7 linked regions of the Homo sapiens genome follow. The protein of the gene in region 1 interacts with the protein of each later gene in a pairwise test. Each region holds a gene or a part of one and is shown in the gene's direction. Other genes may lie near its edges.

Evidence for each region.
Region 2: the proteins of H2AP (region 1) and CCT5 interact in binary tests that used the Homo sapiens proteins (3 or more experiments, as listed by UniProt).
Region 3: the proteins of H2AP (region 1) and WFS1 interact in binary tests that used the Homo sapiens proteins (3 or more experiments, as listed by UniProt).
Region 4: the proteins of H2AP (region 1) and CEP44 interact in binary tests that used the Homo sapiens proteins (3 or more experiments, as listed by UniProt).
Region 5: the proteins of H2AP (region 1) and NTAQ1 interact in binary tests that used the Homo sapiens proteins (3 or more experiments, as listed by UniProt).
Region 6: the proteins of H2AP (region 1) and CCK interact in binary tests that used the Homo sapiens proteins (3 or more experiments, as listed by UniProt).
Region 7: the proteins of H2AP (region 1) and LAMP2 interact in binary tests that used the Homo sapiens proteins (3 or more experiments, as listed by UniProt).

Annotation. Positions count from the first base shown.
Region 1 is NC_000023.11:37,988,963-37,992,398, forward strand, and holds H2AP (huntingtin-interacting protein M), read left to right. Parts: upstream 1-1,816; 5' UTR 1,817-1,877; coding exon 1,878-2,231; 3' UTR 2,232-2,352; downstream 2,353-3,436.
Region 2 is NC_000005.10:10,252,521-10,256,996, forward strand, and holds part of CCT5 (T-complex protein 1 subunit epsilon), read left to right. Parts: intron 1-1,624; coding exon 1,625-1,685; intron 1,686-2,153; coding exon 2,154-2,318; intron 2,319-3,434; coding exon 3,435-3,633; intron 3,634-4,476. UniProt on the Homo sapiens protein: Component of the chaperonin-containing T-complex (TRiC), a molecular chaperone complex that assists the folding of actin, tubulin and other proteins upon ATP hydrolysis.
Region 3 is NC_000004.12:6,293,850-6,298,325, forward strand, and holds part of WFS1 (wolframin), read left to right. Parts: intron 1-1,191; coding exon 1,192-1,340; intron 1,341-4,476. UniProt on the Homo sapiens protein: Participates in the regulation of cellular Ca(2+) homeostasis, at least partly, by modulating the filling state of the endoplasmic reticulum Ca(2+) store.
Region 4 is NC_000004.12:174,311,075-174,315,550, forward strand, and holds part of CEP44 (centrosomal protein of 44 kDa), read left to right. Parts: intron 1-4,476. UniProt on the Homo sapiens protein: Centriole-enriched microtubule-binding protein involved in centriole biogenesis. In collaboration with CEP295 and POC1B, is required for the centriole-to-centrosome conversion by ensuring the formation of bona fide centriole wall.
Region 5 is NC_000008.11:123,419,043-123,423,518, forward strand, and holds part of NTAQ1 (protein N-terminal glutamine amidohydrolase), read left to right. Parts: intron 1-4,476. UniProt on the Homo sapiens protein: Mediates the side-chain deamidation of N-terminal glutamine residues to glutamate, an important step in N-end rule pathway of protein degradation.
Region 6 is NC_000003.12:42,256,938-42,260,843, reverse strand, and holds the end of CCK (cholecystokinin preproprotein), read left to right. Parts: intron 1-2,612; coding exon 2,613-2,746; 3' UTR 2,747-3,018; downstream 3,019-3,906. UniProt on the Homo sapiens protein: This peptide hormone induces gall bladder contraction and the release of pancreatic enzymes in the gut. Its function in the brain is not clear.
Region 7 is NC_000023.11:120,425,188-120,428,988, reverse strand, and holds the end of LAMP2 (lysosome-associated membrane glycoprotein 2 isoform A precursor), read left to right. Parts: 3' UTR 1-362; coding exon of another isoform or gene 363-505; 3' UTR 506-2,841; downstream 2,842-3,801. UniProt on the Homo sapiens protein: Lysosomal membrane glycoprotein which plays an important role in lysosome biogenesis, lysosomal pH regulation and autophagy.

The DNA of each region.
Region 1 (3,436 bases):
AATTGAGGGAAGAACTGTTAAGCAAAAAGAAACCAGAATTCAATGATATGAGAAATTTTCAGCCTATCCAGATTGCAAAAGACACCAAAATTAGGAAATTCATTGCCACAAAATCATCCTCCAGAGATAAAATCAAGGGCGTGGCTAGACATCCTTTTGTTAGTGCCTTTAAGGGATCAAAAGATCAAAGTATTCAATCACATAGATGGTGTTTTGAAGAGATATGGGGTGTGCTTCTCAGAATAAGCAAGGAATAGAGATGGGATTTTCTATGAGGGATCTTGAAGAAGCCTCTTGTCTAATGGCATGAATCCCCATGACATACATAAAAGGCCTGTAAGTTTTTGACAATGTTATATCAGCAGAAACAATGCCAGCTTAGACTGAAAGGGACAAATAGAGGAAGAAATGAAAGAAGTCTACAGGACTCTCAAAATTTGACAGGAGGAAGCAGGCTGATAAAACTACTCAGCTGTAAACATATGCTACCATTCAAAATAAAGGAACAATGACTGAGGGCAGAACCTAGAGGCCAGAGGGCAGATTTATGACCCCAGGTGAAGTCATAGGATCAGAGTCATCAAAGGGAGGAGTCTCAAGCCTTAGAATATTCTCAGGCCTTGAAACCTAATGGTTGGATTTTGAAAATGCTTGGATTTGAGACTCCTTTTTCTTTCCACTTTTTCCCTTGTGGAATGGCAAAGTTATTGGCTGTAAATGAACCAAAGTCAAAGGGAAAACACAGAATTAGTAGAGAAGAAAATTAAATAATAGAAAAGAAACATCTCTTAGTGCTTTGGCTTCACCTAGGAGGGACAAGAAATACACATCTGGGCTTAAACTGAGCACAAGATGCACTTCTCTATCAACTGTTTACCTGGCACTGACAGGTAAACTTATTGAACATCTTATTATTATTATTATTTTTGAGACCGAGTCCCGCTCTGTCTCCCAGGCTGGAGTGTGGTGGCACGATCTCGGCTCACTGCAAACTCCACTTCCCGGGTTCACACCATTCTCTGGCCTCAGCCTCCCAAGTAGCTGGGACTACAGGCGCCCGCCACCACGCCCGGCTAATTATTTTTATTTTTATTTTTATTTTTAGTAGAGACGGGGTTTAACTGTGGTCTCGATCTCCTGACCTTGTGATCCACCCACCTCTGCCTCCCACAGTGCTGGGATTACAGGAGTGAGCCACTGCGCCCGGCTGAGCATCTTATTATTAATTGAAAAATGACTAAAATATATTTTTCAAATGGGGTAAAATCATGACACTCATACAGATATGAAATGAACACATGCTAAAAGAAAAAGATGTTATGACTGCTTCAAAAGGGAAACCAAAGAGTTGATATGGGAATATTCATCAGTAATATTAAATGATTGTGTAAATGGAGGCAAAACTGGTTTCATAAGGTGAAGAACAACCGAACCTCTACTAAAGAATATGCTGTACATGTATCAGCAGCCTACAACTAACAAAAGGCTATAAAAGACTTCACAGATAATGTAAGGCTGGAATCAGATAACCTGCAGTGGTGTCCTAAAGACAGAGCAAAGTTTTCCACTGAAGCACACATTTATTTTTATAATGTCAAAATCAGGTAGAGAGTTATAGTTCCCTCAAAATCAAGGTTCAGTCATTAGCGTGACTAGATCAGTGTCATAGACATTTCTAGGCTGAGGTCTGATAAGGGACCAGTGGACACCAATGAAATCACAAAGTCTAGGGATGTCACAAAGGCAGCTAGCTCCCTGACCAATAAGGGCCTGGAGCAGAGGGATACAATAGGCAGGACTAAGCACTAGTGTCCTCAGAGACCTACTTGAGCTAGAGAATCAAGCAGAGCTGATGAGAGCCAAACCCAGCAAACATCATGTCAGAGAAAAAGAACTGTAAGAACTCGTCTACAAATAACAACCAGACTCAAGACCCTTCTAGAAATGAGCTACAGGTCCCTAGGAGCTTCGTGGACCGCGTTGTGCAAGATGAACGAGACGTCCAAAGCCAGAGTTCCTCCACAATAAATACCCTCCTTACCTTGCTCGATTGCCTTGCTGACTACATCATGGAGCGGGTAGGCTTGGAGGCCAGCAACAATGGCAGTATGCGCAACACTTCACAAGATAGGGAGAGAGAAGTGGACAACAACCGTGAGCCCCACAGCGCTGAGAGTGATGTGACTCGCTTTTTGTTTGATGAGATGCCCAAATCCAGGAAGAATGACTGAAGACTGGGTCCCAGAGCCTTGAAGGGAACCTCACAGGCTTAGCCAGGGCAAAAATGTGTCACAGCTGAGGAATATCTGCTGTTGTCATCAACAAGTGCTATTAAAGGATGTAAATCCATGAGTATGTTTCTGACTCCTCTCAGTTTCTGTCGCTTTGGGTTGTAGGTGTCTGTAAGACATCCAGGGGAAGCTATCCCCAGAGAGCTGAAGGCGGGGAAGGGGTGGCCAGTGTGGTGTTTGAATCAGTGATTTAGAGGGGGCAGTTTCCAATGGTGACAGTGAGGGCGCCGGCCCTGTGGGGAGGAACTGGCTGGGATAAAGACACCGAGACTTCCTCATTGTCTCTGAACAGGAAGGCCTTGTGAGGCCAGGGAGTTGGCTGGGGGCCTCTGAGGCTTGTTGAATTCCCAGCCTGATGCTGGGGCCTGAGGTGGAGCTGCAGACTCTGACTGAGGTGCAGGAGGCTTTATTCAGGATAGCAAAGGTCTGAAGTCAGAGGGCGGTGGCCACAGGGGTGGGTGGAGAGGGGCACACTGGCTGGCATGAAGTTCATGGGACAGGGGCTTTACATGGAGATTGAAGAGTGAAGGAGAAACCATCATGAAAAATGCAAAAAAGAAATGATGGCCTGCTGGATTTCATTTCTTATTTCTTTATGCCCTGCCTTATTATGAAAGCGGATTTGAGACAGGGATTATTAGCTAGTGCTGTGAATATATCTTTTTGTCCTCTCTTCAGGACACTGGTAAAATAAATCAAAAGAATATATAAAATTTATGATCTGGCCTAAGATGGGCAATTCAAGAAGTTCTTAATGGTTGTTAATTATTAATGAATCAGCTTAATTATAAATGTATTTCATTTAAAACACGATTAACAATTTCATTTTTAAATTGAATACTTATTCATTATAATTACCATATATTGCATAGAGCACCAAAGGATTATTAGTGACTCAATCCATGTTTTAAGAGGTATAGAAATAATTCTGTCCCAAGTGGCGGCCTCTAAAGCACATGCAATCCTTTTCAAAACTTCCTGCTCTGTGCTAAGTTTAAAAGAGGTGTCACATCAAGTGTTGTAGCAATCTGTCCCCTTGCCTGTGAGTGCCCACATTTTAGGTTTCCACCTCTTCCTTGGGTCCTTGGGAGCCACAGTCTGCTGCCTGCTGGCCTTTCACAGAGGGTTGGTCAGAGGCTGCACAG
Region 2 (4,476 bases), on another chromosome or scaffold:
AGGAGAATCGCTGGAACCTGGGAGGCAGAGGTTGCGGTGAGCCGAGATCACGCCACTGCACTCCAGCCTGGGTGACAGAGTGAGACTCCGTCTCAAAAAAAAAAAAAAAAAGGTGCAGGCATTAGTTGGCTTAGGAAGGAATCATATTCTAAAATCCTGTAACCTAAAACAGAGCAGGCTAAGTTTCCAGGCCAGCCAGCATAATTCTGTTTTATCCATAATATGTATTATGCCTTGATGTTTGATACTCTTCCCTCTGGAAACACACAGAACTAGCAGAAGGAAGAAAAAGGTTTTTTCCACGTTGCCGAGCAGTAGGGCAAAATAGATCTCGGGATTTCGGGATCTCTCCTATTTGCCAAATTCTTTACATCCTTTTCTTTCTGCCTCTTGCTTTCTCCTTAAAAATAATAATAATAATAATTCTATTACTCAATTTGGTAGCTAAATGTGAAAAAAAAAACAGGTAACTTTTTTATTATCACTTTGACAGCTACTTACCTTCCTTAAGAGGGCCAGTTTCAGCCGGGCGTGGTTGCTCAAACCTGTAATCCTGGCACTTTGGGCAGCCAAGGCAGGTGGATCACCTGAGGTCAGGAGTTAAAGACCAGCCTGGCCAACATGGCAAAACCCTATCTCTACTGAAAATACAAAAAAAAATGAGCAGGGCGTCATGGCGCGTGCCTGTAATCCCAGCTACTGGGGGGCTGAGGCAGGAGGATCGCTTAAACCCGGGAGGCGGAGGTTGCAGTGAGCTGAGATCATGCCACTGCACTCCAGCCTTTTTGAGACACAGCAAGACTGTCTCAAAAAAAAAAAGGCCAGTCAGTAACTTTGATCTATAAATATAATTATTGGGATTTCAGGTGGGTGGAGGAAGATTTTTAAAGCAAGAGCAGTTTTTCTTTTTATTTTGTAATGGGGTCTCGCCATGTTTCCCAGGCTGATCTCAAACTCCTGGCCTCAAGCAATCCTCCTGCCTCAGCCTCCCAAGTAGGGGGGGTTGCAGGCTCTAGTACTGCATCCAGCTCAAAAGATTACAATTCTGCAGTAAATCATAGTGTGACAGTAAGGTGTTGTATGTTTACAGTTGGACTGTTTCTCATGAGTACAGGCCCCTCCTTGTCTGCAGATGGGGAACCCGCAGATGTACAAGCCTAGATGCAAGGGACTTGAGCATCTGTGAATTTGGGTATCCTCGGGGGCTCCTGGAACCTGTTCCCCATGGATGCTCAGGGAGAACTGTGGCTCCTGGAACCAATTCCCCATGGATGCTCAGGGAGGACTGTGTTGCACAGTGGTCTTGCAACGCCTGTAAGGTCATAGTCATACTGTCCCTCTTCTCAGCTGTAAATGGGCTGGTAAAAGAATCTGTCTCATTAATGTGTTGAAAATTCAGTGAGATAACACAAAGCACTTGGTTCTCTTTCTTTACGTAAGAATTGCTTATTAAAACTGGAGTCGTAAATGTTATAATACTTAAACCTGTCTGTTGCCCCTTAAATGTAGAAGCTTCTAGACAATAGAAACTAAGTCATAAGTGATTTTTGTAGTCATCAGATGTGTGCTTTTAACCATTGAAATTATATGTAACAGTGTTTGCTTTTTCTGTTTGTTTCATTAGTCTCATATAATGGCAGCAAAGGCTGTAGCAAATACAATGAGAACATCACTTGGACCAAATGGTAAGAGTCCACCATTCCGTGTTTTTTAGCAAAAGATTTAAATTATAAAACTGTCAATATAAACCTCTCTACAGAAAGGTGGAGTATTGAGGGGAGGCATCTTACTTCCTTAACACAGCCAAAATTTTTTAGTGTATTTCAGGTTTCTTAAACATGGTTATAATCGTGTGCAATATTAGGTCGGACCTTTTTTTTTTTTTTTTTAGCATGTAACATCATTTCATTAGCATTTTCCAAATCATAGTTGTCTTTTGAGATTAACATTATACTTAATGATGCTCCATAATGTTTTGCCAATTATGTTAGCCAATCTAAAAATGCCTTCATGCAGCTACTATTTTGTGTATGTTGCATTATTTGTATATAATAAATTGCACAGATAAGAGCTGGGTCAGGAGGTCTTGTTTTATAGTTTGTGATATTGGTTGCCAGTTTTTTGCGCAAAGCCTACTAAACGTTGTTTTTTAGGGCTTGATAAGATGATGGTGGATAAGGATGGAGATGTGACTGTAACTAATGATGGGGCCACCATCTTAAGCATGATGGATGTTGATCATCAGATTGCCAAGCTGATGGTGGAACTGTCCAAGTCTCAGGATGATGAAATTGGAGATGGAACCACAGGAGTGGTTGGTAAGAAAAGACAAAACATCCTTTCTCATTTAAGAGACGTCATTTAAGACCACAGGGCTAACATGCCTGCTGAGATTGTTGTCTCTGAATCAGAGCATGAGGAGACAGACAAATCCAAGTTGAAAACATGCTACAAAACAAATGTCGGACTTTCAAAACTGACAGTGTTACAAAAGAACAGAAAGAGGGCTGGGGATTGTTAGGCATGGAGAAATGTGTAATGATTGATTGGACACTGATTTTGCTTGTCTTTTAAGCTATAAAGGATGTTTGGGAAACGTGGAAGAATTTGATTTTGGATCATGTACTGCAATGCTGAGTTTCCTGAGTGATCTGTGACCATTATATTGCAGATGTGTAGGAGAATGCCCTTCTTCTCAGCTGTATACCTAAATACTTAGGAGTGACATGTCATGGTTTCTGTAACTAATTCTCAAATAGTTGAACAGAAACAGTATGTACATGTAGAGAAAATGTGGCAAAATGTTAATAAGTAAACTGGTATTCGTTTTAGTATTGTACCTTTTTTTTCTGAAGATTTGAAATCTTTAAAAAGTTGGGGAGATTGAAGACAAAATATCAGTAAGGTTACCTTTTCTGCAGATGAAATTTGAATTCATTCAACAAATATTTATTGGATACTATTGTATGCCAAGCACTGTTCTCGGTGCGCTTGGAGAGCTGTAGATTTAAACAAAATTCATCTTTGCGACCCTAAAATGAGGAGAAAGGAGGATGGGGGTGGGGGGAATAAATAATAAACACGTTTTAGTCTCATCACCAGGCTGAATTTCACTGAGTAGACCCTGGCCCAGGAAACATAATAGCTTTTTACCTCTTAGAAAAATGTTCTTTTTACATTATATTCTTTAGTTACGTTCTTCACATCACTGAGGGTTGAATGTTCATCTGTAAGGGGACACATGTCCTATTCGACCTTCGCTAGAACTAAAACGAGGCTTTCTTTTAAAAATAGAGGGCTTCTGCCTCTAAGATGACTTGCAGCTTAATTCTAGAAGCTGCTTCTTTCCATGATAGCATCTAACTTGTGCTGATTATACTAAAAGTGAAGTTTTGTTGTTTGCCTGAACTGATTGTCTGCTGGCTTATTTGCAGTCCTGGCTGGTGCCTTGTTAGAAGAAGCGGAGCAATTGCTAGACCGAGGCATTCACCCAATCAGAATAGCCGATGGCTATGAGCAGGCTGCTCGTGTTGCTATTGAACACCTGGACAAGATCAGCGATAGCGTCCTTGTTGACATAAAGGACACCGAACCCCTGATTCAGACAGCAAAAACCACGCTGGGCTCCAAAGTGTACGTTTCAGTAGATGATATGATTACCCATTTGTAGAGGAGGCAGTTTGTTTGCCATTTCTTAAAGGCAACACAAAATGACCACTGGTGGATTTGTATCGATTTGATTATTTGTTTTGATTACTTGGTTTTGCTTTGTTTTTAATGTAGATGTAGACAGATGCATTTTGTATTTAAGTTGAGAACTGAATTTCTAAGTTCAGGTATAAATCCCCTTGACAATATTTGCAAAATATAGTTATTTTAATTTAGCAGAATAGGTTGTGTTAAAAATCAGCTAAGGCTGGATGCAGTGGCTCATACTTGTAATCTCAGCACTTTAGGAGGCCAAAGCAGTAGCTTGCTTGAGCTCAGGAATTGAAGACCAGCCAGGGCAATGTAGTGGGACCCCATCGCTACAAAACAAAAAACTAGCCAGGCATGGTAGCACACACTTCAGCAACTCCAGAGGCTGAGGTGAGAGGTCGAGGCTGCAGCAAGCCATGATCATGCCACTGCACTCCAGCTTGAGCAACAGAGCGAGACCCTGTCTCAAAAAAAAAAAAAAGTCAACTAGAAAGGGTCCTACCTGGAGGATATGTGAATTTTCTTAACACTTCTTTCTATAATTTCTTTGCTGGGGAGCCATTGGGGGTGGGTTCCACTTTTTATTCAGCAAATTGCCGATCCAAAATTATAATTTAGTAAAGAGAGTCTTGAAAGCGACTTGTCTCTGGTGTTTTCAGCGTTCGTGTAATGTCCGTTTGCCAGGCTTACTGCCAGGTCTTATGGGCACTAAGACACAGCTCTTCTCCCAGGAGACTCTAAGCAACCTCAGCCAAGGGGTGCGCTGATTATGTACAA
Region 3 (4,476 bases), on another chromosome or scaffold:
GCAAGCCCCCAGCCCGCCCAGGCTGCATCCAGCCCGTGCTCCTTCCACATCTCCTGTACCTGGCTGTCCCATGGTCACCTCACAGCTCAGTCTACAGTGAGCTACTGAGGCCTGTGCTACCTGCCACTTGTGTGGGCCCCCCCAAGGCTGCCTCATCTCTTTGCTGCAGCTACACCTGGGTGCTGCCCCGACTCCTCTCCTCTTGCACACACAGCTGATCCATTAGGAGGTCTGTCAGCGCCCACTATCACGGCTGCCATCTTGGATGCAGCCTGCCTCCTCCCTAGGGTTTCTGCAGCACCCTGGCTTGTCTCCCTCTGCCCTGCCCCAGCATGGTCCTTTCTTTCCCATCCTTCCCCTGGAGGCCCTCCTGGTCACCATCTCACCACGGCAACTGGGGTCCTTCAGGGGCCTCATTCCCTCCTAGGGGATCATGTTGGATAGAGGGGTCAGTGGGCACGTAGCTCTCGCGGATCACGTTGGATGGAGGGATCAGTGGGCACGTAGCAGGCTCTTGGTGGAAGATGTTGGATGGAGGGGTAAGTCGGCCCATGGCAGGACGCATGTTGAATGGACGGGTTAGCAGGCATGTAGTAGGCCCATGGCAGACACTTGTTGGATGGAGGTGTCAGCAGGCACATAGTAGGTGTGTGGCAGATCATGTTGGATGGAGCGGTTTAGCAGGTGCACAGTAGGCCCTGGGTGGATCACGTTGAATGGAGGGGTTGGGGGCGCAGATCATGTTCGATGGAGCGGTTGGCAGGGTACTGCCCTACAGGGCGGCTTGTCACCCGTGCTGTGAGAAGCCCCACGCTGGCTGAAGAGGAGGGTGTCAGCATGCACTGGAGGTGCATGTTGTAAGGCTTGGCAGGTGAACTGGGTGAAAGGTGTGGGTGAGTGGCCCCAGGCATAAGGAGCTAGGCAGAGAGGGACACTTGGGGTGGGGGACAGCACACCCAGGGGCCGGGGGCCAGGAGTGGAGGCTGGCACTTGGCAAACCTGCCCCCTTCCTCCTCACCCAGCCTGGTCCTCAACCCTCAGGCCGCCCAGGGAAGGGTTTCCTCCACCTGAACCCACTCAGCTCCTTTCTTAGCTTGGCCCCACGCCACCGTCCCCAGCCCATTGCTCTGTGTGAGGGTGGCAGTGGGGCTGCAGTGTGGGGCGCCCATGCTGTTTTCTCTCATGCTTCAGCCAAGAACTACATCGCGCTGGATGACTTTGTGGAGATCACTAAGAAGTACGCCAAGGGCGTCATCCCCAGCAGCCTGTTCCTGCAGGACGACGAAGATGATGACGAGCTGGCGGGGAAGAGCCCTGAGGACCTGCCACTGCGTCTGAAGGTGAGTGACCAAGACCCCGGTCAGGCCGGAGCCTGCCTCCCAAGGACTCGCGCACCTCAGGCAGGGCACCTTCCAGGAAGCTGCAGGTGGGGAGGTTCGCGCCTAACAAAGAGTGTCTTACAGCCGTGCCGCTGGTACCTTTGGGTCATCATCTATCGTCATAAGGATGTGTCCTCGGGAGAGAGGCCTTTCTTTTCTGCGCCGTCAGGCTCAGAAACCAGGGGCGGTGTTGGGCAGGAGTGCTAGGATGGCAAGCAAGGGGCCCCTGGGTCTTTCTGTGCAGTGTAGGGGGCAGTGGGGCGGGCTGGACGCAGACTTTCATCTAGACTTCATCACTTAGCAGATTTCTCCATGTATGGTCCAGAGTGGAGGCCAGTGCCTTGAAGATGCCTTCCCCGAAAACAAAGTGCCGTGTCCGTCAGGCCAGGGAGGACGTGCAGAGGCGCCTACTGCCCCTGGATCTGCAAGGGCTCAGGGAGCGAGGCCAGTGTGGGAGCGTGGTGGGTGACACTTGTGCAGGGTGCCATTGGGCACACCTGGAGGACATGAGCAGCTTTGGCGGCAGGAGGAAAGCGGGGAGCGGGGAGCGGGAAGCCCAGCAGTGCGGGCCCTACTCCTGGCCTGACAGCTTGTTTTCTTGGCCATGTGGCCCTATGGCCTCTCACAGAGTTGCTCACAGTTCAGCTCGCATGGTTGAATTAGATGTGTGCCTGTCTCACTCTGCAGAGAACACCAGGATTTCCAGAAGCTTGGCCTCCTGACCCAGGATCCCCAAGCTGAGGCCAGCACAGGGGGCCCCAGCAGATGATTGTCACAGAGGCTGCGGGCAGTATCATGCAGGCACCCTGGGGTTCTGTCTTCTGAACTGACTGAGAACCTGGAGGAACTGCCATCATTGTATTCAGATGGGCGCGTGAGTCAGGGCCAGGACCAGGAGATGGTTGGGCCACCAACTGTCAGGCAGGCAGCAGGCTGAAAGGTCACCGTCCTCGAGCCAGGGAGAAGGTCAGAGTAGGCCCGCCCTCCGGTGGGGGGGAAGAGCAGGAACCCAGGTGCTGCAGGAGCAGCTTCAGCCCAAAGAGCAGCAGGCACAGCAGCCCTGCTGCAGGGACTCGGAGCCAGACAGGTCTGAGTGTGAGCCCCCCGAGTGCCCAGAGCTGCGAGTCCTTTAGGGTGGCAGGTGGAAGGCTCTGCTCCTCCCACTTGGGACAGGCTGTATGTCCAGGGTATGACACCGACCGGTCTGCAGAGGTTCTGAGACATGGGCCAGGATGGCCAAGAACTTGAACCAAGGGAGCACATGGTTTTTACTGATGGTCTGCTCAGAGCTGGCCCTAGGCAAGCATATTCACAGATTGGGTGCCATCATCTCCTTACTAATGGGAGATGAGGAAGCTGGGGTGCTGGCATGGTTTTGGCAAAGACACTCCCGAAATGAGAGTGAGGGTCACAGGTGAACGGGTTAACTTGGAGAAGACCCTTGGGCCAGGCGGCCATGGCCCAGGTGTCCCAGTTTATGCCATCTGGTGTAAGTACTATTATAATAATGCCTCCTTGCATATGCGTCCTGTTCGGAAAATTATGTCACCTAGTTATGGATGGTGAGTCTAGTGTTGTGTAGCATCTGAAAATCCTATTTATTTATGTTACTTAATGACAGGGTCTCGTTCTGTTGCACAGGCTGGAGTGCAGTGGCACGGTCACAGCTCACTGCAGCCTCAACGTGCCAAACTCAAGTGATCCTCCCACCTCAGCCTCCCAAATAGCTGGACTACAGGCATGTGCCACCACACCCAGCTGATTTTTTTGAAAACATTTTGTAGCGATGGGGGTCTCACTATTGTTATCTACGCTGGTCTCAAACTCCTGGGTCAAGCGAGCCTCCCACTTTGGCCTCCCACACTGCTGGGATTCAGGCGTGAGACACTGTATCCAGCCTGAAAGTCCTTTTTAGAAGGGAGAGATTTAAGCTGTTTTGACAAGAAGTAAACAAGACTCTGTTTCCCTTTAGTTTTGGATGCTGTCAGAGCACTTCGATTCCTTTGCAGTTTGTCTTCTTAGAAGTCTCTTGTGAGGGAGGCAATGAATCGTCACAAGCGTCTCCCAGGGCTGAGAGCTGTCCCACCTTTTAGTAGCCTTTTGTAGAACAAGGAGAGGTCTTCACTCAAAGTGAAAATGACAGACACCTCTTTGTGAGCCACCCTTACTCCCACAAAGAATGTTCCAGACTCCACACAGTTCTCTTCTGGAGCCTGGAGGTGCAAGCTGTCATCGTAGATAGAATCCTCTGAAAACAAACTTAATATCTTAAAATCGTAACATTTTTAACATTACATAATTGGAAGATCCGACACGGGAACATTTTTGCCCACAGGTTTGAGCAGAATCTCGTCTCGGCTCCCTTCCCCAGCCTGCCTTCTTCACGGGTCCGCTGGGCCATCGGTGTGGTGACGCTGCTTCCTGGTTTCTCGTGGCAGCAGAAGGGCCGATCACCACAGGCCCAGACAGAGAGCTCTGCAGTGTTCTATTCATAGAGGCAGACTCCTCATAGTTTTTAAGTTTCGTTCTTTTTCCATCTCAGGAGTTGAATTTGTTTGGACCTTCTTTGCAGAAAAGGAGACTGAACTTTTTAATCCCATGTCAGAGGAAGGTCTTGGGTGTACATTGCAGGGAGCAGAAATTGGGGCTTTAAAAAGGGGATCGTTCCCTGGTCATCGAGTTCAGGTGGGGGACCAGCCCCTCCACACTGTCCAAGCAGAGGCTAGACGCCATCCAACGTAATGTTCTAGAATATTCCTTGTCTTTTAAAGGCCCTCTCAACCAGGTGGTTGTGTGTGTTCTAGGCAAAAGAATGTGCATGGCTTTGAGTAAGACAGGATTTCAGATTTATTTTTACCAAGGCCACCCCCTTGCTACCGTGGCGGTCGTGCGTGAAACTGGTGGTGAGCAGTGGCGGGCCAGGCCACCTTTAGTTGTCCTGCTGTTCGCAAGGCCCCCATACGGGGATTAACTGAGCAGCCTGCCGGCTGACGCACATGTTGACTCGTGTAGCTGTTGATTTTAGCCAGCTGGCCTGGCGTCATACTACAGGGGCTTGCCCCAAACAAACCCTGGAGTAGGTTGGTTTTCATAAATG
Region 4 (4,476 bases), on another chromosome or scaffold:
AAATTGAAAATTTTTAGAGATATTTTACTGTTTTAATCATTCGAGAATAATCAAGTGCTCTAGGATATTAATGTTGGCCTCCAAGTTTTTAAATTTAAGCTTAGGTAGGTAGTAGCTTTCTCATATGTAAATAATAATATGTAAGAGAAGAAAACACATTTGTCAGTATCTATAAAGTATTGCAAACTTCTTCCATGTGAATAGTTCACTGATAATGATAAAATGGGAAAGATCTGATATTAGGATAGGTCTTTTCCTGGTCACTTTACTAGGCTACTGATATTTTGCTTAGTGTGACTGAGCAGCAAGGGTAAGATTTCTGTTTTTCAGTGACAGCTTTGTTTTGATTGTTATGTATTTTTAAAAGATCTAAATTTTGTGCCATATCTATGATTAAATCATAGCTATAGAAGAGATGTTTTGTCCAATTGAGAATTCATCGTTAAGTTAAATTTTTAATATCTGTGGATTGTTAACGTTATAAAATCTTTCAGCTCTACTATATGTGTAACAATAAAATAATATATATTCTAGCACTAACAGTGTGCCTGGCACGATTCTAACTACTATATTAACTCATTTAATTCTTGAAGTAACCATTGCAAGATAAGTACTATTTTTATATTTTACAGTTGAGGAAACTGAAGTACAGCAAAATTAAGTAACTACAGCAAAGGTCACACAGTTATTGAATTGTAGATCAAATTTGAATCCAGGCAACTGATCTGAAGTTTTTTCTTGACTGCTGCATATTTGGAGCACATATCAATATCATTGCACAAAGAACAATTTCAGTGATTAGCTTGTTAAGTATAATTATTTGAGATGCTATTTAAGGCAACTAAATTTATTATAGGCTGCAGATTTCAGATTTGGTAAAATGTTGCCTGTTTTATTTATCCATTCATATATCTATTCAACAAATGTTAATGCTTGAGTATAAGATCCTTGAGAGCAAAAACTTTATCTTATGGTCTGCCTGTCTAGCACACAGAAAGTATGTCGGTGCTTTTATCACCAGTATTTGCATATAGTAGAGTTTAAATATTTATTCACTGAAAGAATATTGAATGCTTGTGATTTGCAAAACATTGCCTTTTTCAAGTTTGATTTTGCATGCTCAGGCTTATTTTTTTTTAATGACATGATTATAGAATATACCTTTAACCTATTTAGAAAACACATGGCTAAGTTTTTTTTTTTTAATTTTTTAATTTTTTTGAGATAAGTGTGGTCTTACTCTGCTGCTCAGGCTGGAGTGCAGTGGTGCAATCATAGCTCACTGCAGTCTCCTAGATGTTAACTCCTTGGCTTAAAGTGATCCTCCTTTCTCAGCCTCCTGAGTAGCTGGGACTACAGGTACGTGCCACCACACCTGGATAATTTTTTATTTATTTACATACTGTTTTTAGTAAAACAAGGTCTTGCTATGTTGCTCAGGCTGGTCTTGAACTCCTGGGCTCAAGCAATCCTCCCATCTCTGCTTCTCAAAGTACTGGGATTACAGGTGTGAGTTAACATGTCCGGGTTCACATAGCTAAATTTCAACAACTGTGCCAGGACTGAAAGTAATTAACAGGCCTCTATCTGAAATGGATTACAGATTATGATTAGGTTGAATACCTGGTCTCATAGAGTTTATGATCTGATCTAGATTAATTAAAAGACTCAAGTTTATAAAGACTTACACATTATACCTTATACATGCTACTTGGAAATAGGGTTTGATTTCATTTGAATGCAGAGAGCAATAATTTACTACTCTGGGTTTAGGATCATATTAAATCAGGAATAGTTTTTGTGAGGTTCCAGATTTGTTTTGCCTTTATCAGGAATACAGTGTTCCATGGGGAATTGTAAGGCACCTTAATGTCTTGGTAAGAGTGAATTAGCAGAGGCTTTTAGGGATTGGACTTGTGTTGGATAATTTTGGAGAGGGTTTGAGGAAGCAAGGGCTACGGGTGCTGTCAGGGAGCAGGAGCAATTTGATGATTGATGGTAAGAATGAAATTTTTAGCATAAAATAAGTACTCATGTTAGGCAAGGGGGGCTATATCTGCTCATTTATGTGGTTACATGGTGCCCTTGTTTTGTCTATGTTCGGACATGAATGGTGGTTTTGGGTGTGTTGTTTCATTATGCTAATGAAGTGACCTCATGTGATGTTCTTTTTCATGAAATTATTTATATTCATTAGAGGGTACAGTAGTTTAGGTGTTAATTGCCAGACAGGGCACCAACTGTTAGTGCTCCTTTTTTATTTGCTTGTTTGTTTCGCTTTGTTTTGTGCCTTTTTTCCCTCAGAGGAAAAAAAAAAAAAAGGTGTGCTACCACAGAAGAGTGTGGTTTGTTCCTGTGTGACTAGCAGGAAGGGTACATGTGAGCACCTGAAGGAAGCTGTAGCAGAAGAGTAGAAAGATCAAGTCATGGAGTTTATCCCAGAGTCGTAGGAAGATTTTCAGCAAGGCTAATATTCTTAGGTTTGTGTTTCACAAAGGTTATCATCAAAGCAGAATAGTGATTTGTTAGGAAAGTAAGATAGGCAAGGATAATTTGAAGAGAATTTTAGTAGTCATTATTTCAGAATAATAATGAGGGTCTCTACTAAGGCAATGATAGTGAGGATAAAGAGCAGGTGATTTATTTGGGAGAAATTTAGATGTTAAAATTGATATGCCTTGATCCTGATAGATACAAAAAGGGTGAAGGAGAGTAAGGAAGGTAACACTGACTACTTGTGTTTGGCTCATGTGATTGGGTAGGTGATTGTTACTCTTTAATAAAATAAAAAATTCAGGAAGAGGAGAAGGTTTGGGAGAAATAATGAGTTCACTTTTGAATATAATAAATTATATATGAAATCCTTAAGACAGAATATCTAGAAATCAGTTGGATACATACATTGGTCCTTGATTTAGAAGTATTGGCTTACAAATTATTAAATGGTAAAGGACCCTACTGATTCCCTTCGTGGAATAAGGTGATAAGCCTCCAAAGATGGCAGTGAAAGATTAGTTGTTACGTGGTAAGAGTTGGGTAGAAGATTTCATGTCCCATACCCCCATAATCTTAGAAGTAGAAGAGTCCCTTTCTTTACAGAGACTTCTTAGCAGTCACTACTGAAGTACATAACAACTGGTGTCAGGGTCCTTGTGTCAGTGGCCATTGCCTTTCCCCTTTCCTTTCCAACCTGAACTCAGTTACCAATTCTTTTCTCAATCCCCTATAGCACAGCTAAGAAACTATTAATGTTTAAACAAGTAAGGCTTTACTAAAGGTTCAGGATAGCAATAAGAAAAAATATAGAAATTAATGTGCAGTTAACTGATCTGGCTATTAAATATAGCTGGTGTTCTGTAATGGTCCACTCTGTAGCCTCTGGAATCCTCTGTAGGAATAACTATGAATAGCCTGCCAGCCTGCCAAATACCAGCTTTCTCCCACCATGAGGCACACTCTTGAATAAGGTTAGACACCGCAAAGTCTGGACCCCAAAATGGAAGACAAAGAGAGCCATTCCTTCACCCTTTATCTGTCTTCCCGGACCTGTTTCCTTTTCCTAGGGCCCCCTCCTCTTTTTGGAAAGATGTCCGAAATGTTCAGGACAACTATCTGTACCCACAGAAAAAAATCCAAGATTTAGTGCATAGTAGATATAGTTCCTGCCTAATTTCAAATTATTTCTTAAAATAACCTCTTGTCCATAGCTCCTACTAAAAGATCTGGGTTTAGGTAGTCTTCAGAATTACACCCTGTAATCTTGACCTCCAGGCTTAGCTAATTGGATTAAGAGTAGACACCTGACCCAGAGAATTCCAGTTCAAAGTGTGATGAGTCAAATTACATTCTCTCTCTTAGCATTTGGAATTAGGACACCACGAGTTAGTTAGTCAAATGATATTGAGCCTGGGCCGGGCTGGCCATGTGGTGGAAGTTTACGCTGATGAGTCAGCAGAGAAAGCCATTCTACAGAGAAGAGCTGAGGGATGGAGCAAATGGCAGAAGTAGGCAAAAGAGACTGTGGCTCTATGAGAGATAAAAATTAGTCTTCTAGTTGTTTCAGTTCTCAGTGGTAATAGTTTGTTCCCCAATTAAGGTTGTCTGTGTAGGCTTACAATAAAGCTCTCTTTATGTGAACCAATTTAAATGGGTGTCTAATTTTTTTTTTTTTTTGCATTGCTTTTGCAGCCAAATGTATTCTGACTGAAACACAGGGTTTGTAGGATTTATTACATTATCCGTAATCTTCTCTAATTGATATTTTTGTAGGGGAGATGCCATCATTTTGTCAAATTAATATTATCAGGATATTTGAAATGTTAGGTTTTTCCGTTTTTTAGAAAAAGAAATCTGTGGATCTTAAATTTTTGCATTACTTATTTTCATATATGTCAAATCAAGTTAGAATGTTTCTTGATTTTTAAAAGATATATATGGTCAGTTATAGTAATAGTTGTCACTTGCCACAGAACAGTA
Region 5 (4,476 bases), on another chromosome or scaffold:
GGGGACACCACACTACTTTGGCTCCTGCAGCTTTGGGGGTTTTTTTTTTTTTTTTTTTTTTTTTTTTTTTTTTTGAGACAGAGTCTCAGTCTGTTGCCCAGGCTGGAGTGCAATGATGCCATCTTGGCTCACTGCAGCCTCCACCTCCCAGGCTCAAGCCATTCTTCTGCCTCAGCCTCCTGAGTAGCTGGGACTACAGGCACCCACCACCATGCCCAGCTAATTTTCGTATTTTTAGTAGAGACGGGGTTTCACCACATTGGCTGGGCTGGTCTTGAACTCCTGACCTCAGGTGATCCACCTGCCTCAGCCTCCCAAAATTCTGGGATTACAGGTGTGAGTCACCGTGCCCGGCCATCCTGCAGGTTTTTTAAGTTGAAATGAATGCCTCCTGTCTACTTCTGTTAGCTTCCGTCATGTTAGCTTCCAGATGTTACTTACGCTTCAAGACCCTGCTTAATGATAATAGTGGCAGCCAGTATTTGTTTGGGACTGTGTCGTCAGCAGAGCATTTCTGATTCTGACTTAATTGTTTTGTGTTTTTCAAACAATTGTGGAGTGCCTGCTTTGTGCCAGGGGTCCTCCCCATCTGCATGCATCTCTGACCTCAGCTCATCACTGGGAACCCCTGGAGTGTCCCAACCTTTCTGCTGCCAAGATGATCAGCTGACAGCTTGGGGCAAATCCACAGCCCTCCCTCCCTCCCTCCCTCCCTTCCTTCCTTCCTTTCTTCCCTCCCTCCCTCCCTCCTTCCTTCATTCCTTTCTTCCCTCCCTCCCTCTCTCCCTTTTTTGAGTCCCTTATGCTTTTGTTTAGAGTTTAAAGAACATTTCAGATATTATCCAATCACATATTTTGTTTGAGTTTTTTTCCCTTCCAACTTTTATTTTAGATTTGGGGTTACATGTGCAGGTTTGTTACATGGGTAAAGTGTATGTGTTGGGGGTTTGGTGTACAAATTATTTTGTCACCCAGATAGTGAGCATACTACCAGATAGATAGTTTTGATCCTCACCCTCCTGTCACCCTCTACCCTCAAGTAGGCCCCATGTCTACTGTTTCCTTTTTTGTGTCCATGTGTACTCAAGGTTTAGCTCCCACTTATACGCAAGAATATTCAGTGTTTGCTTTTCTGTCCCTGTGTTAATTCACTTGGGATATTGGCCTCCAGCTCCATCCATGTTGCTGCAAATGACATGATTTTTGTTCTTTGTCATTGCTGTGTAGTATTCCATGGTGGATGATATATACCACATTTTCTTGATCCAGTTCACCATTGATAGGTGCCTAGGTTGATTCTACATCTTTGCTATCATGAATAGTGCTGTGATGAACATATATGTGCATGTGTCTTAATAGTAGGATTTATATTCCTTTGGGTATATACACAGTAATGGGATTGCTAGGTCGCATCATAGTTCTGTTTCAAGTTCTTTGAAAAATCTCCAAACTGCTTTCCACAGTGGCTTAACTAATTTACATTCCCACCAGGAGTGTATAAGCATCCCCTTTTCTCCACCAACTTGCCAGCGTCTGTTATTTTTTGCCTTTTTTTTTTTTTTTTTTTGAGACAGGGTCTCACTCTGTCACCTAGGCTTACAGTGCAGTGGCATGATCATGACTCACTGCAACCTCAACTTCCTGGGCTTAAGTGATCCTCTCACCTCAGCTTCCTAAGTAGCTGGGAGTACAGGTGGGCATCACCACTTTTTTGACTTCTTAAATTATTTTTATTTGTTTATTTTTATTTATTTATTTATTTATTTAAGACGGATTCTTACTCTGTCACCAGGCTGGAGTGCAGTGGTGCAATCTAGGCTCGCTGCAACCTCCGCCTCCTGGGTTCAAGCGGTTCTGCTTCAGCCTCCTAAGTAGCTGGGACTACAGGCATGCACCACCATGCCCAGCTAATTTGTGTATTTTTAGTAGAGACGGGGTTTCACCATGTTGGCCAAGATTATCTTGATCTCTTGACCTCTTGGTCTGCCTGCCTCGGCCTCCCAAAGTGCTGGGATTATAGGCATGAGCTGCCGTACCCGGCCTATTTATTCATTTTTTTGAGACAGAATCTCACTCTGTCACCCAGGCTGGAGTGCAGTGGTGCAATCATGGCTCACTGCAGCCTCGACCTGGTGTCAATCAATTCTCCCACTTCAGTCTCCCGAGTAACTGGGGCTACAGGTGTGCACCACCATGCCCAGCTAATTTTTATATTTTTTGTAGTGTGGGGTTGTGCCATGTTGCCCAGGCTGGTCTTGAACTTTTGGGCTCAAGCAGTCTTCCTGCCTTGGCCTCCCGAACTGTTGGGATTACAGATGTGAGCTACTGCACCTGGCCTGACTTTAAGAATAGTCATTCTGACTGGAGTGAGATGGTATCTCATTGTGGTTTTGATTTGCGTTTCTCTAATGATTAGTGTTGTTGAGCATTTCTTCATATGCTTATTGGCCATGTGCATGTCTCTTTTTCCTTTTTTTTTTTTTTGAGATGGAGTCTTACTCTGTTGCCCAGGGTGGAGTGCAGTGGCTCGATCTCGGCTCACTGCAACCTCTGCCTCCCAGGTTCAAGTGATGCTCCCAGCTGAGCCTCCAGAGTAGCTGGGATTACAGGTGTGCACCACCATGCCCAGCTAAGTTTTGTATTTTTCTTTTCTTTTTTTTTTTTGAGACGGAGTCTTGCTCTGTTGCTCAGGCTGGAGTGCAGTGGCGTGATCTTGGCTCACTGCAAGCTCCGTCTCCTGGGTTCACACCATTCTCCTGCCTCAGCCTCCCGAGTAGCTGGGGCTGCAGGTGTCCACCACCACACCCGGCTAATTTTTTGTATTTTTTTTTAGTAGAGACAGGGTTTCACCGTGGTCTGGATCTCCTGACCTCGTGATCCGCCTGCCTCGGCCTCCCAAAGTGCTGGGATTACAGGCGTGAGCCACCGCGCCCAGCCTAAGTTTTGTATTTTTAATAGAGACAATGTTTCACCATGTTGGCCAGGCTGGTCTTGAACTCCTGACCTCAAGTGATCCACGCGCCTTGGCCTCCCAAAGTGCTGAGATTATAGATGTGAGCCACTGTGCCTATCTGCTTTTGAGAAGAAGTATCTGTTCATGTCCTTGGCCTATTTTTTAATGGGGTTGTTTTTTGCTTGTTTATTTAAGTTCCTTATAGATTCTGGATATTAGACTTTATCAGATGCATAGTTTGCAAATATTTTCTTGCATTCTGTAGGTAGTCTGTTTTTTGTTTTGGGTTTTTTTTTTTGAGACAGGGTCTCACTCTGTCACCCAGGCTGGAGTGCAGTGGCACAATTATAGCTCATTGCAGACTTGACCTCCCAGGCTCAAGTAATCCTCTCACGTCAGCCTCCCAAGCAACTGAAATTAGAGATGTGTGCCAGCATGCCTGGTTAATTTTTTTTACTTTTTGTGGAGACAGGGTCTCTCTATGTTGCCCAGGCTCATCTTGAACTCTTGGGCTCAAGTGATCTTCCTGCCTGGGTTTCCCAAAGTGCTGGGATTACAAGCACGAGCCTCACCATGCCTGGCTGTAGGTTGTCTATTTACTCCATTGATAGTTTTTTTTTTTTTTTTTGCTGTGCAGAGCTCTTTAGTTTAATTAGGTCTCACTTGTCAATTTTTGTTTTTGTTGCCGTTGCTTTTGGAGTCTTCATCATGAAATCTTTGCCAGGGCCTATGTCTGGAGTGGTATTTCCTAGGTTTTCTTCTAGGGTTTTATAGTTTTAGGTATTACATTTAAGTCTTTAATCCATCTTGAGTTGATTTTTGTATATGGTGAAAGGGAGGGGTCAAGTTTCAATCTTCTGCATATGGTTAGCCAGCTATCCCAGCATCATTTATTAAATAGGGAATCCTTTCCCCATTGCTTGTTATTGGACTTTGTTGAAGATCAGATGGTTGTAAATGTAAATATGCGGCTTTATTTCTGGGTTCTCTAACCTGTTCCATTGGTCCGTGTGTCTGTTTTTGTACCAGTACCATGCTGTTTTGGTTACTATAGCCTTCTAGTATAATTTGAAGTTGGGTAGTGTGACGCCTACAGCTTTGTTCTTTTTGCTTAGGATTGTTTTGGCTGTTTGGGCTCTTTTTTGGTGCATATGAGTTTTAGAATAGTTTCTTCTAATTCTTCCACAACTCGCTTGCTCTTCCTTCCTTTCCCTCCCTCCCTTCCTTCCTTCCCTCTCTCCCTCCTTCCCTCCCTCCTTCCCTCCTTTCTTTCTGTCTCTCTCTTTCCTTCCTTCTCTTCTTTTGTTTTCTCTTCTCTTCTTTTTTCTTTCTTTGTCTTTCTTTTCCTTCCTTTCCCTCCTTTCCTTCCTTTCCCTCCTTTTCCTCCCTTTCCCTCCTTTTCCTTCCTTTCCCTCCTTTTCCTTCTCTTCTGTTTCTCTTTTTCTTTCTTTCTTTCTTTTTCTTTCCGGAGGGTCTTGCTACATTGCCTAGGCTGGTTTCAAACTCCTGAGCTCAAGTTATCC
Region 6 (3,906 bases), on another chromosome or scaffold:
TTTAAAGTTTAAAAGAGCTAAACCCTTCAGTTTTAGCAAGAGCTAAGAAAGTCACTGTTTTCTCAGCACCAAAGTCTTTCTCCAGGAATAAGGTGATTCAGCAGCCCACTAGCTGAGTGACATGCAGACAGTCCCGAGGCTAGCTTTCCAATAAGCCCCTTCCAATTCTTTGTGTGATTCAGAGGGAGGCCCGTCCATCTCTTGTGGCCCATAGGAATCAGGCTTTGATCAATTCCATACATCAGATGTAAGCCCCTACTCTATGTCAGCACTGGGAAAGTGAGTGAGGACCCTGGTAAATACACATGACATGAGGACAGAACTGTACGTGGAACGGGGAAGTCAGGGTGTGTGATAAATGCAGCTTCCATGACTGAACATGGTGCCCCCACCGTTAACTGAGGCTGCTTGCTCGTATTGAAGCTGTCACCTTGCTTCCATTAGATGGAAATTTGGGTTGTGCCCAGGCCTTAGAGTGGGCACTCATCATCACAGCAGGCAGAAGGATGGGTCATGTTTCCATGTGACTGTGTACAGGTAACTGGGTCTATAGGTTTTCCTGAATTCAAGGGTAATATTTCACCTGAATGATGAACAATTAAATAGCAGGGGCTATTTTTCTTCTACGTAGGCTGAGGATATCTGCAAAAAGACCTGAAATGTGCTGAATTGACTGTTGGTTCCAAAACTGGGAAGGGTTGGGGTTGGGGAGAGAAAGGGTGGGGACGTTGTTCTGTGTTGTTTCTGTTTTTAATTAAACTTGCTTAATTTCATTACCCAGGGTAACTGCCTTTGCATTTTCATTTATCAACACATAAGCCATAGTCTGACTCTACTCAGCCTATGGGTAGGAGCTGGCAAGGGCAGCCTCATGCAGAAGGGATATAGACCAGCATGACAGGAGGTGGGGATACAGTGGCCCCCAACACAGTGGGAGTCATTGAGTGGTCCTCCACTCCTCTACCCTTGATTTGGCCTGGGCTTTGTCCATTGAAGTCCCTGAAGGGCCTTTCTTAAGACTGAGCTTGCACAGGAGAAGGTGTTCTGCTGATTTCATACCCCAGGAGGCTTCTGTCTATGAACTTTGAGCTAGGACTGTCTCATGTCTCCAAATAAACTGCCTCTTCATGTCCCTGCTCACTCAGTGTGAGCTCTACAAAAGGATCACACTGTTCCTGAAGACTTAACTTCCATCCCAATGGGACAATTTCAGGTTCAGTTATTGCATTTTGGTCAAAATTGCTGATTTAAATCACCTTTGTTATCACCTCTCTCCCCCCCTTCTTTGAGTCTTACTGAGGTGCCAAGATTTAATCCGACAGTCTTTTTCTGAATATCATTTTTAATTGATATTGATTTATCATTAAAAATAAAATGATCATCAACTCAAAACACTTACTGATAAATGACAAAAGCTTTCTGAATATAACTTTCAAATTCATATTTTTAAAAGAGTATTTATGTAGCAAAGGAGCTTTATTTATCTATTTTTTATTATACTTTAAGTTCTGGGGTACATGTGCAGAACATGCAGGTTTGTTACATAGGTATACACATGCCATGGTGGTTTGCTGCACCCATCAACCAGTCATCTACATTAGGTATTTCCCCTAATGCTATCCCTCCCCTAACCCCCACCCCCCGATAGGCCCTGGTGTGTGATGTTCCCCTCCCTGTGTCCATGTATTCTCATTGTTCAACTTCCACTTATGAGTGAGAACATGCGGTGTTTGGTCTTCTGTTCCTGTGTTAGTTTGCTGAGAATGATGGTTTCCAGCTTCATCCATGTCCCTGCAAAGGACATGAACGCATCCTTTTTATGGCTGCATAGTACTCCATGGTGTAAATGTGCCACATTTTCTTTATCCAGTCTATCATTGATGGGCATTTAGATTGGTTCCAAGTCTTTGCTATTGTGAATAGTGCTGCAGTAAACGTACATGTGCATGTGTCTTTATAGCAGAATGGTTTATAATCCTTTGGGTATATACCCAGTAATGGGATTGCTGGGTCATATGGTATTTCTGGTTCTAGATCCTTGAGGGATTGCCACACTGTCTTCCACAATGGTTGAACTAATTTACACTCCCACCAACGATTTTTTTTTAACCATTCCAACATCAAGATATTATAATTGTGCCACCTTAATAACAAGAGCTCTCCAGGAGTCAGGAATGTTGATGGATATTAAGGGATGAATTTAGGAACAATTAAGTACTGGAAAAATCTTTGGTTGGTTTCTGCTGATGCCATCTACAAAAGGAAAACACCCATCTACCAAAAGAAAGCAAACGGTAGGGAGACTAAGGAAAATCTAGGCAAGTCCCCAGACTGCAAGGCTAGAGAAAATGAATCCACCTAAATACTTGCAGAACGCAAAGCACACCCCTAACTTGTAAATATATTGTCCTCTCTCCAGTTACACAGACATTGGTCCTTCTCCTCTCTCAGATTTTGGTCCATCAGTTCCACTACTTTGATAGCTCTTTGATACCTTTAAGGTGGTGTCTGTTATATTGCGTCTGGCTTTTTCCATTGCTCTCCTTCCCAAATTGAACTAGAGATGCTTTTAGATGCAATGTCCCTGTTTCCTTCCTCCCTGCTCCTTGTAGCTCCTTCTGGACGAATGTCCATCGTTAAGAACCTGCAGAACCTGGACCCCAGCCACAGGATAAGTGACCGGGACTACATGGGCTGGATGGATTTTGGCCGTCGCAGTGCCGAGGAGTATGAGTACCCCTCCTAGAGGACCCAGCCGCCATCAGCCCAACGGGAAGCAACCTCCCAACCCAGAGGAGGCAGAATAAGAAAACAATCACACTCATAACTCATTGTCTGTGGAGTTTGACATTGTATGTATCTATTTATTAAGTTCTCAATGTGAAAAATGTGTCTGTAAGATTGTCCAGTGCAACCACACACCTCACCAGAATTGTGCAAATGGAAGACAAAATGTTTTCTTCATCTGTGACTCCTGGTCTGAAAATGTTGTTATGCTATTAAAGTGATTTCATTCTGCCCTGTCGTTCCCTGCGTCTACTGAGGGCAAAGGGCTCCATTTGGTCCTCAGAACATGCAAGGAGGGAAGCCTGATAGATGCTACACTGGGACAAATCCTTGTAGTAGATGTCCCCAGAAAGGGCTTGGGAAATGCAGCTCAGACTTGGAGCTAACTTTGCTACAGGCCAGGTGGACAGTGAAAGGGCCATCTGTGGGCAACTCCAGAGCCCAGCCCTGGCCACCCTGATCCCCGATCTTATTTACCAATCCTACTCCCATCAGGGTTTCCTTGGGGTTCTCTTGGCCTTTAAACAAGTTACAGGCAGTAACTGGCCATGGTTTTGCATACATTTGATCACTCCATGGCTCTGTGGCACAGAAGTTATCATCCTTTCTTTACAGATGAGGAAACAGGCTCTGAAGAGTGAAAGTGACTGCCCCTTATGCCCCAGCTAAGGAGATTCACAGACTGGAGGGCTTAATGTTCCTAGGCTATCGGGACCTTCATCACTCTAGCACTTCTCCAACTGAGTGCACAGGAATCACCCGGGGAATCTTGTTAAACTGCACATTCTGATTCAACAAGTCTGGGCAGGAGCCTGAGCAAGCTCCAGGTGATGTCAATGCTGCTGGTTGCAGACCGCACTTGGAGCTGCAGTGGTGCAGATAAGAGCCTATAATCGCTTTTCCTTGAGCCCCGCCATGTTTTGGAGTTGGTGGGACTCCAAAGTGCTGGGGAGACTCTGGTAGTTATACAGAGCAGAAGCCAATCTGTCTGTTGGTTCGCTGTAGAAATCAGTGAGGGGAAATAGTCCAAGGCGACACCCAGAGATGATCCAGTACCCACCACCCCCAGTGCAACCTTTCCATGCTTCCTGCTGAGGCCTCCAAGACCCTCTGATCCTT
Region 7 (3,801 bases), about 82 Mb from region 1:
AGGTGTGACGAAGAGAAAGAGAGTAGGGAAATACACAGGCAGTGGTTTTAAGTGTAGATGATGGCTCCTTAACCCAGTGTCATTAGATAATCAAACCTAAAGTCTTCCCATATTAGGCAAGCGCAATTCTCTATTTTGGACCCTTCCCATTCTTCCCTTACCTTCTGCTTTTCGTACTGAGGAATTTCGTGTGATTTTAGATAAAGTGATAATGAGATATTGAGCAAATAAGAAAATAGAGGTAATGCTATAAAAAACTAAGCTATGTACACTTTCAAAATGCATGTTTCTTGCATGCTTTTTACTACTTAATTGCATTCTTTGCTAATTTCCTTTCCTTGCTGTCTGTTCTTTTCTAACAGCTGAAGAATGTTCTGCTGACTCTGACCTCAACTTTCTTATTCCTGTTGCAGTGGGTGTGGCCTTGGGCTTCCTTATAATTGTTGTCTTTATCTCTTATATGATTGGAAGAAGGAAAAGTCGTACTGGTTATCAGTCTGTGTAATCAGTTAAATCTAGTGTTTGTTTGTTTTTTTCAATTAGAAGTTACGTTTCCATTGGCTAAAAGCCAGGACATGCTGTGCAATAGATTGTTTAAGATATGCAGACTAACTTCAGTGAGTTCCTAGCTAACTTGGGCATGAGTACACTTATTTAAGACAAAATATATTAGGACCAATTTTTTTCTGTTTTTTTTCTTCCTTTGTTAAAGTATAATTAAAAGAAAAATTGTGGCTTAGAATTTTTTAAGTAAATAATGATTTTAAGCCCCTGGATCCAATTATGAAAGCATTTTTGCTGATGTGTAATTTTATATGTTACAGTTACTTATATTTTACTACTTTGATGTTATTTGCAAAATCAAAGGTGTTAAAGAATTTAACTTGCTTCAGGAAATAAATTCAAGAACATAGTGGATTCATTTTCATTGGTGGCAGACACGAAATTTGGTTCATGATAAGACTTCCTTTCCCCACCTCCTGATCAGCATTATTTAAATCTGTATTTTTCTGTTAGTTAAGAAAGAAATGGCTTCATGATATTGTATTTAATAGCAAAAGTTTGGCTGTCTTCTTCATTACTGTTAATAGCTACTATATTTTAACAAGGAGATTTCTTTTTTTGTTGTTGTTGTTCTAGAGTTTGGAATATACTGATTATCTCAGACTTGACATTTATACTGAAGGATGAAGTAAGACCTCCAGCTTTTTTTAAAAAAGGTGTTGATTTGGAACACCTGTATGGGTTATGGTTTATTAAGGTTATGGTTTAGAAAGTTTTTTTCCCTCAGAGCCTTAACTTGTTAAGAAGGTTCATTTATCCTGCACTGAAAACAAAAACTCTATATACTTTGTTTGTGTGCCTCCTGCACTCTCCCATTCCCTATGTGAATATGCTCTAGTTGATATTTTTAATATATTGATTTCTTTTTTCTCACAGCAACAAGTGCTTACTCTAGAGGTTAGTGGGCCCTGATATGTCATCAGTCAGATGCCTGCCTAGCCAAAGCTGGACTAAGATTATTCTGTACATTTGTTGATCTTGATATAGACTTATATCCCTGTAGGGACTGCTAATGGCTCCGGCTTCTGGAGTAAGGTACTGGAGACCACTCATCCCTGTGTCTGCTTGATTGGTTCAGCTGTTGAATTGCCCTTTTATTTGGAAGCAGTGTTGAAGTTGTCTAGGGTTCAAATGGCTGCTTTGTACACCTGTCATTAGTATAAGGCAGATGTTTATTTTATCAAGCTATTTTATCTCTACATTTAACTAAAAACAAAAGTTCCCAAAGATCTGCCTTCACTTCAGAAATTTTTTTTGGATTAAAAAAATTAAGCCTGAACCTTAAATAAAGTGAGTTGGTTATTCATTCCAAGGATTAAGTCCCAATCTACCTCTCAGCACAATGCAGAAGCTCACCACTGTATTGCTGCCATTAACTCATGCCAGAACCCTTTGCCAATAACTGGAATTACAAATTTTTGTTAAAGAAAATTTATCAAGATCTTTCTTTACTGCCTTCTCTATATGTACATCTCAAAAACATGTACATCTCAAAAACTGGAGTAGAAAGTTAGATTGCTCAACTACAACTCCTCTAGAACTCTATAGCTCTGACATACAGATTCACACTCTCCTCTATTTGCTAAGTATGTAAAGAATGTTTTCTTTTAAAATGTTCTCTTTTGAGAACAACTGCTTATTTGTTATAAAAGCATTTGGTTAAAATGATGTCATCATAAAAAACAGTGGCTTTGTTTCAATACATATTTTTGAGATGATTATCTAGAAGCCAGATTAATAAAATCAGCTTGTGACCTTGCTAAGCATATAAACTGGAAATTCAGATACATTCAAAATTATGGGTTCATTTAAAAGTGTTCTACCTTTTGGGTATGAGACTAATATCACTAATTCCTCAATAGTTATCATGGCTCTATCTTAATTAATTAGAAAATATGTGTGTTTAATTCTTTGAGAATTAAAATAGAGAATATTAACAGAGGGTTAAAAACTGCTTCAACTCCAATAAGATAAAGGAAGCTCAAAATCTATGAGCTGAGTGTTCAATTAGCTTTGCCTACTGAGTTCAATTTTATGTCAATACAACAGTGGATCAGACAGTACGACTTTGAACTGGTGAATGTAAACAATTGTTTTTCACCTAAGCTGCTTTGGAAGAACTGATGCTTGCTGCTAACTAAAGTTTTGGATGTATCGATTTAGAGAACCAATTAATACCTGCAAAATAAAGCATACTGTGGTACTTCTGTTTGATCTAGTATGTGTGATTTTAGATTGATGGATTAAAAATTAATAAAGATCATACATTCCATACCACTATGGATAACCTCATTTTTATTCCATATGCTCAGCCTTAAGAGCTTAGACTTAATTGTATAATCTAAGTTTCTTGAATTCTAGTCTCTTGGATTGTCAACAGGAATCATAGGATCTCATAGATCTGCAACTTAACCAAGTCCCGTCATTAGGAAGGCACTAGTACAGAACCTTTAGTACAGACACCTCAAATAGGGGGACCTACTTAGTCATGGAAATTACAAGAAAACATCAAAAACAAAATATGGAAATCTAACAAATGTAAGAACATCATAACAAACGTACTTTCCGCGTATGTCTGTCTGCATTGATGAACTATACTAATTGTTGAAGTTCATTTCATTCTGAGTGAGATATACCTCAGGGATATGGTGGGGCAAGGGGAGGAGCTATCCATTTTGTGAATTTCCTTTAAATTCCTTACAATCTAGTCTAATGCTTAATTTTTATATAATTGGATAAAACAACAACACATACATAAACATACTCCTTTTTACATGAGAGGTATTTTTGGTGGGAGAAGGAATTAGACATTGGCTCCCTCCATAGTTCCAGAATAATAGGGTTTCATTTTCTGAAAGACGTTTAATAGCTTGTAATTAAGTCAAAAAATGGCCTTCATAACTGCCACCTCATGAGGCCTCTGAAAGAAGCACTTTAAGTTGACTGATAATTAGGAAGAGTGGTTCGATATATGTTGCTGTGAGGGTTACAGTGTATCTAAAAAGTCAACTTGGAGGGTCATCTTTTTAACTTCAATGTGTATACTTTTTGAATGCCAGAACTGCCTTTAGAATTCTGATGAAATGTTTTTCCTTTCCTTTGTTTTTACTGTCTGCATGTATTTTGATAGCAGTGTAAGTTTGGGTCCCTTTAATTTCAAGAGGTATGCATAATGAACAGGAGAAATCTTGCCATACAATGCATCTTTAGTAGGAAAAATCCATAATTTTATTGAGC